Linked DNA regions of Homo sapiens. The protein of the gene in region 3 interacts with the protein of the main gene of each other region in a biochemical or structural test. Each region holds a gene or a part of one and is shown on either strand. Other genes may lie near its edges. The genes, in order: PLK3, COIL and VRK1.

Region 1 (3,239 bases), on a different chromosome or scaffold from region 3:
AGCAGCTGCGTGACAGTCCCAGACCTGACACCCCCCAACCCAGCTAGGAGTCTGTTTGCCAAAGTTACCAAGAGCCTCTTTGGCAGAAAGAAGAAGAGTGAGTCTGGGGTGTCAGTGGGTTGAGGGGGCAGAGCAGTAGAGCGGCTTGTCACATTTGTCTTGGGTGTGTGAGTGTGGGTGCCTGGAAACTCCTGGGGAGAGCATGTGCAGTACAGGCACTTGGGGAGGCCAATCTCTGTGTCATCCCTGTCGGAAGTGGAGGGGCTGGGCAGGATACTGAGGACGGTATCACCTTTCACCCCCAGGTAAGAATCATGCCCAGGAGAGGGATGAGGTCTCCGGTTTGGTGAGCGGCCTCATGCGCACATCCGTTGGCCATCAGGATGCCAGGCCAGAGGTGAGGCGCTCAGGTGGACACTGTTCCCCTGACTCACCCCCACCCTAGCAGCTGAGGGAAGCCGGGGATAAAAGAGGCTGCTGAAGCATCCAGCCTCGTGGTGGCCTAATTGGCTGTGTGTCACCAGCCTGGCGGGGCTGACCTGGGGTGCCCTGGGAGCCAGGGCAGGGCCAGGCCATGGACTCAAGGGTTTGGATTTTGGGGCCTGTGTCACTCCCTTTCCCTGCCCAACCCTCCAGGCTCCAGCAGCTTCTGGCCCAGCCCCTGTCAGCCTGGTAGAGACAGCACCTGAAGACAGCTCACCCCGTGGGACACTGGCAAGCAGTGGAGATGGTGAGGAGCCAGGGAGGATGAGAGGTGATAGAGGTTGCTGGAGCTGAGATCAGGGGCGAGAGGGAAGGAGTGGGCAGAGGGGCCTGGCCTGGGTCCTGGGGTGCTAATTCCTAAATCTCAGTGCCCTGTCTCCTTCAGGATTTGAAGAAGGTCTGACTGTGGCCACAGTAGTGGAGTCAGCCCTTTGTGCTCTGAGAAATTGTATAGCCTTCATGCCCCCAGGTAAGGGTGGGGTCTGGTACATGCTGCTGTGGTGGGAGTTCTGTGGCTGGGAGGCCAGGAGCAGGTGCTGACTCCCTCCTCTCCCATGACAGCGGAACAGAACCCGGCCCCCCTGGCCCAGCCAGAGCCTCTGGTGTGGGTCAGCAAGTGGGTTGACTACTCCAATAAGTTCGGCTTTGGGTATCAACTGTCCAGCCGCCGTGTGGCTGTGCTCTTCAACGATGGCACACATATGGCCCTGTCGGCCAACAGAAAGTAAGTGCTGTTATGGGGTGCCTTGTATTCAGGCCACTAATCCAGCAGGGCCGCACCCTCGTGAGTGCTCCTGGGCTCAGGGGTCTGGGTTTCTCAGAGGAGGGGCATTGGTGCAGGGCTCCCTCTGACCTCTGCCTCCCCATTCTAGGACTGTGCACTACAATCCCACCAGCACAAAGCACTTCTCCTTCTCCGTGGGTGCTGTGCCCCGGGCCCTGCAGCCTCAGCTGGGTATCCTGCGGTACTTCGCCTCCTACATGGAGCAGCACCTCATGAAGGTGTGAGGGCTGGGGCTGTGGTACATTGAAACCTAACCCATCCTGGCCGGGTGCGGTGGCTCACGCCTGTAATCCCAGCACTTTGGGAGGCCGAGGCGGGTGGATTATGAGGTCAGGAGATCGAGACCATCCTGGCTAACAAGGTGAAACCCCGTCTCTACTAAAAATACAACAAATTAGCCGGGCGTGGTGGCGGGCGCCTGTAGTCCCAGCTACTCGGGAGGCTGAGGCAGGAGAATGGGCGAACCCAGGAGGCGGAGCTTGCAGTGAGCAGAGATGGCGCACCATTGCACTCCAGCCTGGGCAACAGAGCGAGACTCCATCTCAAAAAAAAAAAATAAAGAAAAGAAAACTAACCCATCCTGATCCCTCTGATTCCCCCTTGGTGGTGGTTGGGGTTGCTGAAAGCTAGAGGATAAGGCATACACTAATGGGGAGGGGGCTGTCTCACGCTGGATCAGTGACCTGCCCTGATCCTGCTCCCAGGGTGGAGATCTGCCCAGTGTGGAAGAGGTAGAGGTACCTGCTCCGCCCTTGCTGCTGCAGTGGGTCAAGACGGATCAGGCTCTCCTCATGCTGTTTAGTGATGGCACTGTCCAGGTAAGAGCCTATCCAGGAGTTGCGGGAAGGTCTGGGAGGCCCAGGGTGCTGGGGAGGAAGCTGGGCCCGGAGCCTAGGTCCTGACCACTGTCATGCTCTGTGTGCAGGTGAACTTCTACGGGGACCACACCAAGCTGATTCTCAGTGGCTGGGAGCCCCTCCTTGTGACTTTTGTGGCCCGAAATCGTAGTGCTTGTACTTACCTCGCTTCCCACCTTCGGCAGCTGGGCTGCTCTCCAGACCTGCGGCAGCGACTCCGCTATGCTCTGCGCCTGCTCCGGGACCGCAGCCCAGCCTAGGACCCAAGCCCTGAGGCCTGAGGCCTGTGCCTGTCAGGCTCTGGCCCTTGCCTTTGTGGCCTTCCCCCTTCCTTTGGTGCCTCACTGGGGGCTTTGGGCCGAATCCCCCAGGGAATCAGGGACCAGCTTTACTGGAGTTGGGGGCGGCTTGTCTTCGCTGGCTCCTACCCCATCTCCAAGATAAGCCTGAGCCTTAGCTCCCAGCTAGGGGGCGTTATTTATGGACCACTTTTATTTATTGTCAGACACTTATTTATTGGGATGTGAGCCCCAGGGGGGCCTCCTCCTAGGATAATAAACAATTTTGCAGAATTGGACTCCCCCTCACTCGCAGTAGAGCCCGTGGACCGTGGCCACCGCGAAGAGCGAGGTGTTGGTGTAGGAGACCGAGGCCAGCCCATCGCGCGCCACGTCCCAGAGCGCACGGCTGACCACGTGAACGCCCTGGCCCGCGCGCGGCCCCAGCACCACACTGCATACCAGCTTGTAGCGTGGCGGGCTGAGCTCGCGCAGGCGAACGTGCACCTGCTCGCAGAGCTCCCGCACCAGCCGCGCGGCCTCGTCGCTGGAGTAGCACGCGTCGTGCAGCCCTGCGGCCAGCGCCGCCTCCAGGGCACGCTGTGCACGCGCAGCCTCCCAGCGCTCCCCGGGCACTGGCTCCGTGCGGTAGGAGGGCGCCACCCAACGGGCGGGCGCCAGGGGCAACCCTGAGAAGCTGACCCTTGAGCCCAGAGGGGGCACCGGGCCCAGGGATGGCCGCTGACCCCCAGGACCCGCGCCTGGCCCGACCAGCGAGTTGCGGCGGGAGAAGGACGCGGCCAGGCCCAGCATGGAGCCCCGGCGCGAGGCCGGGGC
Region 2 (6,995 bases), on a different chromosome or scaffold from region 3:
GACCAGCCTGGCCAACATGGTGAAACCCCGTCTCTACTAAAGATACAAAAAATTAGCCAGGCGTGGTGGCACCTGCCAGGAGATTGAGATCAGTCTGGAAGACATAGTCCAACACTATCTCTACAAAAAAATTAAAAATTAATGGACATGGTAGTCCTAGCTACTTGAAAAGCTGAACTGGGAGGGTCACTTGAGCCCAGGAGTCTGAGGCTACAGTGAGCTATGATCACACCACTGCTCTGCACTGTGGGCGCAATCTGTCTCTAAAAGAAAACAAGGGCCAGGCGCGGTGGCTTAAGCCCATAATCCCAGCACTTTGGGAGGCCGGGTGGATCACTTGGGGTCAAGAGTTCCAGACCAGCCTGGCCAACATGGTGAAACCCTATATCTACTAAAAATGCAAAAATTAACCTGGCATGGTGGTGTACACCTATGAAACCCTGTATCTACTAAAAATGCAAAAACTAGTCTAGCGTGGTGGTGCGCACCTATAGTCCCAGCTACTCGGGAGGCTGAGGCAGGAGAACTGCTTGAACCTGGGAGGCAGAGGTTGCAGTTAGCCAAGATCACGCCACTGCACTCCAGACTGGGCAACAGAGTGAGACTCCCTCTCAATAAAAAAAGAAAAGAAGAAAAGAAAAAAGACTGTATGGTGTTGGTGGAGGGAAAGACATATAGATCAATGAAACAGAACAGAGAATCCAGAAATAGATGTACACAAATATGCCCAACTGATTTCTGACAAACATTCAAAAGATTCAAAATGGAGGACATATAGTGTTATTAACAAATAGTACTGGAGCAATTGGACATCAAGAGGCAAGCAAACAAACAAAAATGAACGCTGATATAACTCTTACACAAAAATTAACTCAGGCTATGGCTCACACGAGTAATTCCACTGCTTTGGGAGGCTGAGCTGGGAGGATTGCTTGAGCCCAGAAAGTAGGGGCTGCAGTGAGCTATGATCTTGCCACTGCACTCCAGCCTGGACAACAGAACAAAAAACAAACAGGCTGGGCACAGAGGCTCCCGCCTGTAATCCCAGCTCTTTGGGAGGCCGAGGTGGGCAGATCACCGGAGGTCAGGAGTTCAAGACCAGCCTGACTAACATGGTAAAACCCTATCTCTACTAAAAATACAAAAATTAGCCAGGCGTGGTGGCGGGTGCCTGTAGTCCCCAGCTACTCGGGCAGCTGAGGCAGGAGAATCACTTGAACCTGGGAGGCAGAGGTAGCAGTGAAGAAAAAATTGATCGACCAGACTTCATCACAATTTAGAACTTTTGGTCTGTGATAGGCCCTATTAAGAGAATGATTAAAAAAAAAAAAAAGCTCCAGAGTCAAAGAAAATAATCCGCAATCCACATATCTGACAAAGTACTGTTACTGGTGGAGGGTGTTCTTGGCATCTTGAACAGAGAATTGGACAAAACGCACAAACAAAGCAAGGAAAGAATGAAGCAACAAAAACAGAGATTTACTGAAAATGAAAGTACGCTCCACAGGGTGGGAGCAGGCCCGAGCATAGGGGCTCAAGGGCCCTGTTACAGAATTTTTGGGGGCTTAAATACCCTCCAGAGGTTTCCACTGGTTTCTTGGTGTATGTCCTATGTAAATGGAGAGGATGAGGTAAAGTTAGAAAGTCATTTACTCCTCGTATGCCCTATGTAAATGAAGAGGATATTTCCTGTCACAGCTGAAGTGTGAATTGGCCTTATGTTCCCTGCCTCCAGATCCTATTTTCCTGCCTCAGTACTACTATCTAGAATACATAAAGAACTCTCAAAATTTAACAATCTAATAAGAGTAGATGTAAAAGACTTGAAGAGAATTTCACTGAAGAAGCACATAAACACAGGAAAAATGTTCAACATTATTAGCCATTAGAAAATACAAATTAAAACCACAAGAGGCTGGGCATGGTGGCTCATGCCTGTAATCCCAATATTTGGGAGGCTGAGGTGGGAGGATAGCTTGAGCCCAAGAGTTTGAGACCAGTCTGGGCAATGTGGCAAAACTCCGTCTCTACAAAGATTACAAAATTTAGCAGGGCATGGCAGTGCATGCCTGTAGTCCCAGCCACTCAGGAGGCTGAAGTGGGAGGTTCATTTGAGCTTCAGAGGTGAAGGCTGCAGTAAGCCTTGTGATCACGCCACTGCACTTCAGCACTGGAGACATAATGAGACCCAGCCTCAAAACAAACAAACAAATAAATAAAACCACAACATACCACAACACATCTACCAGAATGACTAAAAAATAGTGACAATGCCAAATGGTAGTCAGGATGTGGAGAAACTGGGATTACAGGGGTGAGCCACTGCGCCCAGCCGGAAATGCCCAAAAGTTATCCTGTATGGTGTAAAAGGGGAGTAACCCTCAGTTCTGAGGGAAATCCCTGCCCCTTTCCTAGGGATACAGAAAACTCATGAATAATCCATCCTTTGTTTAGCATACAGTCAAGAAGTAACTATAAGTATACTTGACTGAGTATACTTATAGTATGGGCTCGCTGCTCTGTCTATGGAGTAGTCATTCTTTTATTCCTTTAATTCTCTAATAAACTTGATTTTAGTCGGAGGTGGTGGCTCATGCCTGTAATCCCACCACTTTGGGAGGCCAAGGCAGGCAGATTGCTGGAATTCAGGAATTCGAGACCAGCCTGGCCACCATGGAAAAACCCTATCTCTACAAAAAATACAAAAATTAGCTGGGCTTGGTGGCTCACACCTGTGGTTCCAGCTACTAGGAAGGCTGAGGTGGGAAGTCACTTGAACCCGGGAGGCAGAGTGCACCACGGCACTCCAGCCTAGGTGACAGAGCAAGACTCTAAAAAAAGAAAATCCAAAAACCCTTACTTTCAGTTAAAAAATTTTGTTTTCAATTCATCTACTGACTCCCTGGTATCTACAACTTAACTAGTCTAGTGAACTTGGGGAAGTTACTCCTTTTTTTTTTTTTAAGACAGAATCTTGCTCTATTGCCCAGGCTGGAGTGCAGTGGCACGATCCTGACTCACTGCAACCTCCACCTCTTGGGTTCAAGCGATTCTACTGCTTCAGTCTCCCGAGTAGCTGGAATTATAGGCACATGCCACCACACCCGGCTAATCTTTATATTTTTAGTAGAGTTGGGGTTTCACCATTTTGGCCAGGGTGGTCTCAGACTCCTGGTCTCAAGTGATCCGCCCACCTTGGCCTCTCAAAGTGCTGGGATTACAGGCGTCAGCCACTGCTCCTGGCCTCTAGTTACTTCTTAAACTCTCTGAACCTTGTTTTTTTTAAATCCTCTAAATAAGGATAACAGTTCATAATTCCTAACTTTTGTTATGAAAATTAAAGGAGTTAATATATATTATGTGGAGAAATGTAAATTCTAGTTCAAAAAATAGAAGAAATAATGTAAATACTGATTTATTTATCTGGTGAGAAATGCAAGGACATTTTTGTTTGGTGGTGGGTATTAAAAGGCTAAGGTATTTATATTCCACTGGATACATTTGGAAGAATGATTAACAGTGTTATTTCAAAATTTCAACATTGAGAACACACTAGGACTTACATCTTTTTCAACTCATCATGATGAAAAATTTTGTCAGCGAAATGTGTTAGGATTGTTTTATAAAAATCTTTCACGTCGATGAGCAAATATCTTAGAAGACTACTGCTGAGGAGAAATGTTATTTATCCAGAGAGTTGCCTTAATTAGGAGACCCTACATAGCGCCCAGTAGAAATGTAATAAAGGCATTTCACTTATTCCCTTCCTCAGCCCTGCCGTGAACAAAATTGAATGAAATCAACCACGCTCCGAGTTCTCGCCTAGACGCAGCCTGTAGTAGCCAGGTTTCACCACTAGGTGGCACACGCCAAAGGCTCCGGCGGGGGCGAGCCGCCCGAGCACGCCTCTCGGTGGCCCCGTGGTATCTCTCGGCTTCCGTTGAGCACCAAGCAAGATGGCAGCTTCCGAGACGGTTAGGCTACGGCTTCAATTTGATTACCCGCCGCCAGCTACCCCGCACTGTACGGCCTTCTGGCTTCTGGTCGACTTGAACAGATGCCGAGTCGTCACAGATCTCATTAGTCTCATCCGCCAGCGCTTCGGCTTCAGTTCTGGGGCCTTCCTAGGCCTCTACCTGGAGGGGGGGCTCTTGCCCCCCGCCGAGAGCGCGCGCCTTGTGAGAGACAACGACTGCCTCAGGTGCGCGGCGCAGGGAGCGGGACGGCCGGGTGGGCGGCGGGCGGGGGACGCGCCTGCGCACGCCCGGGCCTGAAGCCGCTAGACCTGGTAGTGGAGGGGATGGGGGATGGGGAAGGGGACGAGGGTTGGAGGGGGGTGGGGCTGTAAAAATGCACGTTCGCGAACCCCGGAGATCCTGATTGGTGTAGTCAACTTTGGGGCTCAGGAATCTGCATTTTATTATTATTTTTTATTATTATTTTTTTTTTTTTGAGACGGAGTCCTGCTTTGTCACCCAGGCTGGAGTACAGTGGCGCGATCTCGGTTCACTGCAACCTCCACCTCCCGGGTTCAAGCAATTTTCCTGCCTCAGCCTCCCGAGTAGCTGGGACTACAGGCGTCCGCCACCACGCCCGGCTAATTTTTGTATTTTTAGTAGAGATGGGGTTTCACCATATTGGTCAAGGTGGTCTCGAACTCCTGACCTCAGTTGATCCGCTTGCATCGGCCTCTCAAAGTGCTGGGATTGCAGGCGTGCACCACCGCATCCTGCCCCTATTATTTTTATTTTTGAGACTGAGTCTCATTCTGTCACCCAGGCTGGAGTGCAGTGGCGCGATCTCAGCTCACTGCAGCCTCCACCTCCCGGGTTCAATCGATCCTCCCACCTCAGCCTCCCGAGTAGCTGGGCTTACAGGCGGGCGCCACCATGCCCGGCTAATTTTTTGTTTGTTTGTTTGTATTTTTAGTAGAGACGGGGTTTCACCGTGTTGGCCAGGCTGGTCTTGAACTCCTGACGTTAAGTGATCCTCCCGGCTTCCCAAAGTGCTGGGATTACAGGCGTGAGCCTCCGCGCCTGGCTGGAATCTGCAGTGTAACGAGCATCCTTCCCGGGATGCTTCTGATGACAGGAGAATCAAACTTGGAAAATCCCTGATGCCTAAGGGCAGGGCCAGGCTTTCTTTCAGCCTTGATTTAGCACATCCGCGCTTAGCTAGGCACTGTGCGACTCTGTTGCGTGCCCATGGTGCAGATGTGCCGGAGACCCGGCCTTACCCATGGCGGCCTTCAGGGTCAGGTGCAGGAAGCTGACAAAGGGGAATCGTTGTGTTTTCTTCATAACCTGCTGTTGTCCAGCCTTAGTTCTCATGTGCCCAGTGTCCCCTGAGACTTCTGGTGGCGTATCATTTTGTGTCTCACCCAGACATTTTGGGATTCTCTCAAATAAGTGTCTTGAGTCCTTTTGGGCTGTAAATTGGGAAACACAAAATAATCTTAAATATGCTTTTGGAAGTTAAAAAAATGATAATGAGATGAGTATCCAGGAGCAATTGTAGTGTGAATTGCTGAAATGTGGTTGAGTTGCCACAGTAAGATGATGGTATCTGATCATTCCAGTTTGGATTCATATCTTGGACTGATTTATTCAGACTTTTTTTTTTCTTTTTTAAATAAAGAGACTGGGTTTCCCATGCCCAGGCTGGAGTGCAGTGGTACGATCATAGCTTGCTGTAACCTTGACTTCCTGGGCACAGGCAATCCTCCCACCTCAGCCTCCCGAGTAGTTGGGACTTCAGGCCAGGCAACCACGCCTGGCTAATTTTTGTATTTGTTGTAGAGACAGGGTTTCGCCATGTTGCCCAGGCTGGTCTCGAATCCCTGGGCTCAAGCTGTCCTCTCACCTCAGCCCCCCAAAGCACTGGGATTACAGGCGTAAGCCACTGTGCCAGCCTTCCTTCCCCCACCCCCTTTAAGCTTCAGCTACAGTGAATTAATTCCAGAGTTGTGAACCAGGCTATTTTCTCTTGCTGCCCTTTGTCGTTGAATATTCCTTACCCTCAAGCATGTCAGATTCCGTAAGATTTCTTCAGAACATCAGGGAATTTAATTTGGAACAGTAACTGCATCTTTAAATCAGGATATTATGATTTATTGAATAATGTTCAACTGTTTCAAATGACAATTTGAAATAATCCAAATTTCAAAGAGTTTTTTTTCCCCCTTTTTATTGACTGTGAAATAGGTCTCTATTCTCTCTGCAATTCAAGGATTATTTAAATGTTACAATTCTAAGGATTGTGTCCCATCCTATTAAGTTTACTTTCTGAACTGTCTCTTGCCTAATGAGTTAATAACTTGTGCTAACTATAATTATACTTTAATGAATCATGTGGGCATTACATTCTTCATAATGAAGTTAACAATGACAAAAACAAACCATGAAAACTGTTATAAGTAATAATTACAACACGATGACAGGCAAATCTTTCCTAAATGCTTCAAATGCACAGCTGCATGTGGCAAAAAATACCTCTCTAGTGGCTTCAGTGGCAAATGGGCAGACCGTAGAAAAAGATGAATCTGGAAAGTTCGTCTTTGTTTTTGTTGTTTTATGTCCACAATCATTGTTTTTCCCTGGCAAATTCACTTTTCTTCAGAGCTACGGAAGAACACATAGTCTCTATTCTCAAAGTACCCAATATTGTTGGACTGGGACCCAAATAATGAGTCTCATGCTTTTGTATATTACCTTCTGTGATACAGACAATTAGACTGAATAGTTAGACCAAGTTATATGGTAAGTGCAGAAGCTGGTTGAGAAAAGGGAGATCAGCATGGAACAAAATGGTTAGGGAATTGAGCAGTACCTTGAAGAATGGGTGGGAAATGTTGGATGATCAAAGCACAGTTATAGAGACAAAAGCTGGCTGGACTTGGTAAAAAGATGAGTCTGACCAGCCAAAGCATTCTGTTGGGATCATTGGCAGTACTGAGAAGGCTAATGAGGAAAAGTGGAACTAGGTTGTGGGAATCC
Region 3 (7,125 bases):
TCACAATTTCTTGATAGGAACTATAGTTTCAACTGATACTGATATAGAAATAAGAAAGTACTTGTTAAACAGTAAGGTTCCTTGGTCTTTTGTTTATTTTAGAAAAATGTCTGTAAGCATATTTAGGATGTAGCACAATATAGCTTAATGTGCTATATATTTTTATTTCATATTAACATATGACATCAAGCTTCAGTGACTCATTCTTTAATTTTTAACAGATACAGAGAAAATATTGCAAGTTTGATGGACAAATGTTTTCCTGAGAAAAACAAACCAGGTAGGAAATGACTTCTTCAGTGTTAATAGGGATTTTGTTTTCTGGGGATAAAAAGGCATGATATCCATGGAATAGCCCTTAATGTAAGATGTTAGGTGGTGGCCAGGCATGGTGGCTCACACCTGTAATCCCAGCACTTTGGGAGGCTGAGGTGGGTGGATCACGAGGTCAGGAGATCAAGACCATCCTGGCTAACATGGTGAAGCCTCATCTCTACTAAAAGTACAAAAAATTAGCCAGGCGTGGTGACGCACGCCTGTGGTCCCAGCTACTTGGAAGGCTGAGGCAGGAGAATCGCTTGAACCCGGGAGGCGGAGGTTGCAGTGAGCCGAGATTGTGCCACTGCACACCAGCCTGGGTGACAGAGTGAGACTCCGTCTCAGAAAAAAAAATATGTTAGATGGTTTGTTAAATGAATACTTGAGCCTCATTCAATTATTATTCAGTGCTTTTAGCAAAGGAAGCAAATTTCATTCATACATTAAGTTAGTAAATATTGAGGCTTTATTGTGTGCCAGGGACTGGGGGTACATCAGTGAACAAAACAAATATCCCTGCCCTCATGAAGCTAGCATTGTAGTTGGAGGATTTTAGACAGTAAACACATGAGCAAAATTTATATGTTCCCCCTGGTTAGTACTGTGGAACTAGAAGAAAACAGGGAATAGAATTAGGGGGATGGGGATGGGGTGGGTAGTAAAGTAGTGAGGAGGACTGTAATTTTAAGTAGGCTGTCCAGGGACAGCCTCACTTGGAAGGTGACATTTGAGCAGTTGTAGGAAGGAGGTGAGGGAGGGAGTGAGCTGTGTAGAAGTCTGGGGAAGAGAGTTCTAGGCAGAAGGGACACTAGTGCCCAGGAGATGCGAGGACTGTGTCTTCATAGGTAAACATGAGGGCTTTGGCTTTTACTTCAAGGAAGAGTGTGAGGTTTGTAGTAGAAGAGTGACATGAACTGCTTATCCTGAGGGGAAGGGTCTCCTGCTTCTGGCATGGGGATGGACTGCTGAAGGAGCAAGGATGGGCCTAGGCAGAAAGCAGGTTAAGAGGCCACTGCAGTAACCCATGCAAGAGAAGTAGCAGCCAAAGAGTGAGAATTGGTCAGTCTGGATATATTCAGAAGTCTTTCTAAGCCTTTGCTCAGTTGTCTCCTTTTCAGGGAGGTCTATCCTGACCTTATGCTATTTAAAATTGCAACCTACTCCCCATATCAATAAATACAATGTGGGTTTCTCAGAATTATCCCATGGACCTCATAGCAATCAGTAGCCTCTCCCTCCTGGCCGAATGAGTCACTTACCTTAATTTCCAACACCAAATATTTGTGTTTAAAATTTATAGAAATGGAGTTAATACAGTGAATGAAATATGTAACAATTCCTGTCCTCTTGAAATTATTGTTTACTTCTGTTAGTGTCCTTTTCTTTCACTTAGTAATGTATTTGTGAAATTCATCCCCATTATCGCATGTTTTTTTTTGTTATTGTTGTTGTTTTGTTTTTTTGAGACAGGGTCTCACTCTGTTGCCCAGGCTAGAGTGCAGTGGCACAGTCACAGCTCACTGCAGCCTTGACCTCCTGAGCTCAAAGCCTTGACCTCCTGAGCTCAAGAGATCTTCCCACCTCAGTCTCTGAAGTAGCTGGGACTACAGGCACACGCCACCACACCTGGCTAATTAAAAATTTTTTTTTGTGGACATGTGGTCTCACTATATTGCCCAGGCTAGTCTTGAACTCCTGGGCTCAAGCAGTCCTCCTACCTCAGCCTCCCAAAGTGTTGGGATTGTAGGCATCAGCCACTGCCCTTGGCCCTATTATTGTATGTTTAACAGTAGTTTCCTCATTGTCATTTCTATATGATATTCTATTGTAGTTACATACCATTATGTATTTATTCTGCTCTTAGGTCGTCTCCAATTTTTGGCAGTTGCAGCTTGCCAATTATGCATACAGATGTATAGTCTACCTGCAGTTGGTTTTTGGGTATTATTTGAGGAGGGGTCATGTATCTTTCCTATCCCCATATTTATATCTAATTGACCCAGCAGCCTTTCTTGAAAAGACCATTCTTTCCCTTTGTTGTCATGTTTGTCATCAGTCAAGTGTGGATGTGTGGATCTGTGCACCTGTTTCTGGACTCTCTTTTTTCAATTGTCCTTTTTGCCTGTTCTTGGACCACACTGTCTTAGTTACTGTAGCTTTATTTAAAGCTTGATATCTGGTAGTTGAAATTCTTTGGCACTGCTTTTCTTTAACTGGACTTTGCTACTTTGCTATTCTTTGCCCTTTGCATTTCTATTTAAATTTTAGAATCACCTTGTCAGTTACACACACACTCACCCACCTCCAAGTTTGCTGGAACCTTGGGATTGAATTTGACTCTGTAGACCAATTTGGGGAGCACTGACATCTTTATACTGTTGAGTCTTCCAGTCCACTTATATGGTATATATTTTATTAAATTTGGTCTGTCTTAATTTCTCTCAACTGTGTTTTATAGTCTTCTCTAGGAAACTCTTGCTCATCTTTCATTGTATTTGTTGCAAAGTATTTAATGCTATTTTAGGTATTTTTTGATAGTTTATTTTCCAATTGCTTTTTGCTGGTATATAGAAATAAGATAGATTTTTATATATTTACCTTGCATTTTACGACCTTGTTAAATGTATCTACTAGTTCTAGTAGTTCTTTGTAGATTCTGTAGGATTTTCCACATGTAGTATTATGTTGTTTGTGAATAAAGACTGGTTTACATCTTCTGTTCCACTCTTTATGCCTTCTATTTATTTTCCTATCGTACTAGCTAAAAGTACACATAACTATTCTGTTATACTGAAGGGATATGGCAAAAGTGGACATTTTTCTCTCCCAGGGGAGCATTTTCAATGTTTTATCATACATGGTGATATTTGTTTTAGGTTTTTTGTACATCTCCTTTATCAGATGAAGAAATTGGAAGTTAGGGATTGTTGTCCGTTTTTTTCTTGGTATATTCCAAGTATTTAGGAATAGTGCCTGGCACATAGGAGGTGCTTAATAAATATTTGAGTTAATGAATGTGTGTATATATGCACACGCTTGTGTGTGTGTGTGTAGAACTGATAAGATCTCTTGAAGGACTGGTGTGAGAAGAAATGATTCAAGGGTGACTAACTCAGATTTTGGCTTGAGGAGCTAGAAGGATGAAAATCTCAGTAACTGAGACAGAGAAAACCTCAAGTTTTAGGGATAGGTCAAGAGTTTAGACGTGGGTTTGTTGGAATTAATGGTGATATTTACACATCCAAGGACCAGTATATGAAATGATGGATATACAAGTCTGGAGGTCGGGGGAAAGGTCTGTGTGTGAGTCATTAGCTCAAAAATGAATTTTTAATATTGAGAAGTGTTGATCTTGACTAGTAGGATTTCTTTTTTATGGTGTGGTTCTGTCTAAGTGTACAGTACACTTTTATCATTTGGAAGCTGATTTTTCTCTTTTATAGGAAAGCCAGATCTTATTTCTTTCTTCTTTCTTTGGCCTCTTTTTGGTGTGTTTTATTTCTCATTTACACGAAGAATATAGCTATCTGCTATAGAGCTAATGGCTTTGATGGCAAAAACATATTGGCTATGATATTCATTGTATTTAAGGACATTTTACTTTCTAATCTTTATTCTAGATCCCTTTGTATTTTTTTATAACTTTAATACTATAATAGTTATTTTTATGAGTATTTACATTTTAAGTTGTCTTGTTTCTCACAATTACAAAAAGTGTGTTTTACATTGTATCTCAAAATACTTTTTAAATTTCAGTTATCTGACAATTCCTGAGTTCAAAAGCATACTTTTCATTGAAGTGATTGAAAAAAATAGGTATCTTAACAAGATGTGTATTTGCATTCTAACTTTACTATAACCATGAATTATTTTTTTTAGAGGTTAGAGAGAAATATATTGAAAGTTATAAAATGATTGTGTTATTCTTTTAGGTGAAATTGCCAAATACATGGAAACAGTGAAATTACTAGACTACACTGAAAAACCTCTTTATGAAAATTTACGTGACATTCTTTTGCAAGGACTAAAAGCTATAGGAAGTAAGGATGATGGCAAATTGGACCTCAGTGTTGTGGAGAATGGAGGTTTGAAAGCAAAAACAATAACAAAGGTGAATTTTGTTATTAAATTATTCTTTGGTCTTCTTGTGTTTATAATTGCAATAAATACTAAAAGAAAGTATAGCAGTAGTTCAATGAAGAACAATAACAGATTGCATGGCAATTAAGGCAAACATTTTTTGTAATACAGAAAATGTGTAGAGGGTTGTAGAAAAATAAATATTTATATATTTCTTATGTTTAGTAGCAAGTTACTAAATTCCTGAACTGATTTTAACTTGGAATACTGATATCTGACAGGGAAATTTTGATGGTGCACTGAATTCATAATTTATATGTTCTTTTCTCCCAAGTCACCACTTAGGGTTCATCTTGTCTTGGTTGTTTCTTATTTGTGGATATGGTCAGAGTATTTACCAGTTGAAAACGGGCATTTGAAAAATTACCATTTGAAAATTTCCTTGTTTGTTGGTGTGGTGCATTTTACCATTTGAACATTATTTTGCTCTGTGAAGAAATATTATATAAAGCTATATATCAGCATATAAGGGGATTAATTGTTTGGAGAGAAATGTTAAATAATGAACTTTATGGTAGAAGTATTATACAAGCATGTAAAGAACTTCTGGCATCACTTTAGATTTTACAGGTATGCATTAACTTACTGATTTGCTATTGATTATTTTTGATAATTAACTTACTGATAAACTTACTGATTTCCCTTATAATCTGAAATTATTTAATACAATGTGTTAGCTATTTTTATATGAGGAAGGAAAACAACTTTTAGAAGAAAAATTTTTTTTACATTATTAACCATTTTTACTGTCATTAACTTTGCAAATTCTAATAGATTTATTTGGAAATCTCGTATTCCAAACTGAGAAAAAGCGTTAAAACAAATTTTTCTCTCTTTAAAATCAGACGCAGCACATTGAAAAGTTTTTATCTTTTCAATTAACAAAGGAGATAGGAATTTTGAAATTGGACCAAAAATTTAACTTTGCCAAATAGCAGGTCTCTGTAATTTCATCATAGAATCTGAAATTATATACATGCATCTACATATACTTTTTTTTCTTTGATAAGTTTTATCTTAATTGCATCTGCTCCAGTTTTGTGGTCAACAAGTGTGCTGAAAACTGTATCTGTTTGAAATGAAGAGGGTAAAATGGAAGCCTGAGTGGAATTTTTTAGTAAGGTATTATAGTAAACTTACTCTTTGCATACATGCATAAACAAGCAGCATGTTTCTTATTGCTCAGGATAGATTTCTCTGCGTTAATATTTATAGGTAGCTTGTATAGTGTTTTTCTCTAAAATTTTGGTGATTGAGAAGTAAAGATCTCTGCTGCTATGTGAGAACTTGTCCAGAGCAACCACCTCCCTCCGCCCAACCCCCATCCCCCTGTCCCCGCCCCTACCTTCCTTTGCAAATCCCTTTGTTGTTTGGACTTACATGCTGGAGAAAATGTAGTTTCTGCAGGTTGGCTGACTTTACAGCTGAGTAGGTCAGTCTGCTGCAGAGCTAACATCTGTGACCTTATAATTCTGTGGTGTCCTTGGATAGTTCAGAAGGCTGGAAATTTCCTGTTGGATCATCCCTGACATGTATAAAGCTTCATTTAGGGGAAAAAAATGAATACTAAGTTGAACAAGTTGAACTATTAGGAGATTTATTTCATTAGTTTACTACTTTTTGTACACTCATTGCTGACACAGGGTTATTCTTTGTATTAAAAAGAAATTAATAAAAGTTAAGGTTAGGTAAGATCATGAGCTGCTTGATAGCCATGTAACTGAAGTGAGTTATTAATTTTGTTAGCTTTTTTTTTTTTTGTAAAGTGAAAGAACTGGACCAGACCAGTTTTTTTTCAAGCTTTTCTTTTAAACTGCAGAACATTTTCTTCATATAATTTGTAAATGCTGTCACTGAAAACAGATAAAAGCAGAGCTCTGCTGGATGAGAAGTTGGGGGCTCCCTGCAATGAAAAGCTTTCTCCTTTGAGAAACTAGCTTGCTGCCTCTGTTTTTCAGCAAGATCTATAACCCAGATGTCTTTTTTTGCTCTGGATGTCAGGAGGCTCAAAACTAAATATGATGCTTAGTTCTAGAAACTGTTAATTTTAATAATTAGTACATTTGTTTCCTCTCTTTTCGTTTGTCATAATTTTTGAAAGTGTGAAGTATATTTTCTGTGTATATATCAGACTCAGATCTCTTTTGGAAAGGGGTAGGTTTAATCAGTTTAATATATGTTTGTATTTAGGTTCCTAAGAAATATTCTTTTTGGTAAAAACCTACAGGAATTGATGAACAGTGGAATGAAGCAAGGTTTCTTGTCTATGTTTTTGCAGCCATGCTTGATTATGGTGCAGTATATTTGGAAACTAGAGTGAAACATGAATTTACCCACTTGGAAATGTTTTCTGCTTAATAATCAAGGAGCTTTATTTAAAGCATAGAATTTTGGGATGACATAAGGCTGAAGGAGAACAGAGAGATCAAGTATACATCTGCCCTTAAAAAGTACAAAGTCAAATATTTTTATTGTTGATTAGAACTAAACATTTTCAGTTTTTAGAATCTGGCAGTACAGTGCAACAGTTATTGGATTCAGTGTATACTCATAAATTAACATTCAACAATTACATAAAAAGTCTAGTTTATGTACCTGATCTAGGCTAGGTCTCTAGGGCTACGGAGATCAATGACATGTGGTCCCATTCTTAAAGAATTCCTTCCT

What was found.
Region 1: the proteins of VRK1 (region 3) and PLK3 form a complex in vitro, tested with the Homo sapiens proteins (one study listed by IntAct).
Region 2: of the proteins of VRK1 (region 3) and COIL, one has a biochemical effect on the other in vitro, tested with the Homo sapiens proteins (2 studies listed by BioGRID and IntAct, with this or other methods).

What each region holds. Positions count from the first base shown.
Region 1 is NC_000001.11:44,803,295-44,806,533, forward strand, and holds the end of PLK3 (serine/threonine-protein kinase PLK3), read left to right. Parts: coding exon 1-97; intron 98-305; coding exon 306-397; intron 398-636; coding exon 637-730; intron 731-868; coding exon 869-952; intron 953-1,044; coding exon 1,045-1,207; intron 1,208-1,355; coding exon 1,356-1,485; intron 1,486-1,971; coding exon 1,972-2,085; intron 2,086-2,192; coding exon 2,193-2,384; 3' UTR 2,385-2,696; downstream 2,697-3,239. Other genes in the region: DYNLT4 (dynein light chain Tctex-type 4), read right to left, coding at 2,709-3,239. UniProt on the Homo sapiens protein: Serine/threonine-protein kinase involved in cell cycle regulation, response to stress and Golgi disassembly. Polo-like kinases act by binding and phosphorylating proteins that are already phosphorylated on a specific motif recognized by the POLO box domains.
Region 2 is NC_000017.11:56,957,981-56,964,975, reverse strand, and holds the start of COIL (coilin), read left to right. Parts: upstream 1-3,925; 5' UTR 3,926-3,956; coding exon 3,957-4,201; intron 4,202-6,995. UniProt on the Homo sapiens protein: Component of nuclear coiled bodies, also known as Cajal bodies or CBs, which are involved in the modification and assembly of nucleoplasmic snRNPs.
Region 3 is NC_000014.9:96,856,307-96,863,431, forward strand, and holds part of VRK1 (serine/threonine-protein kinase VRK1), read left to right. Parts: intron 1-221; coding exon 222-280; intron 281-4,250; coding exon 4,251-4,429; intron 4,430-7,125. UniProt on the Homo sapiens protein: Serine/threonine kinase involved in the regulation of key cellular processes including the cell cycle, nuclear condensation, transcription regulation, and DNA damage response.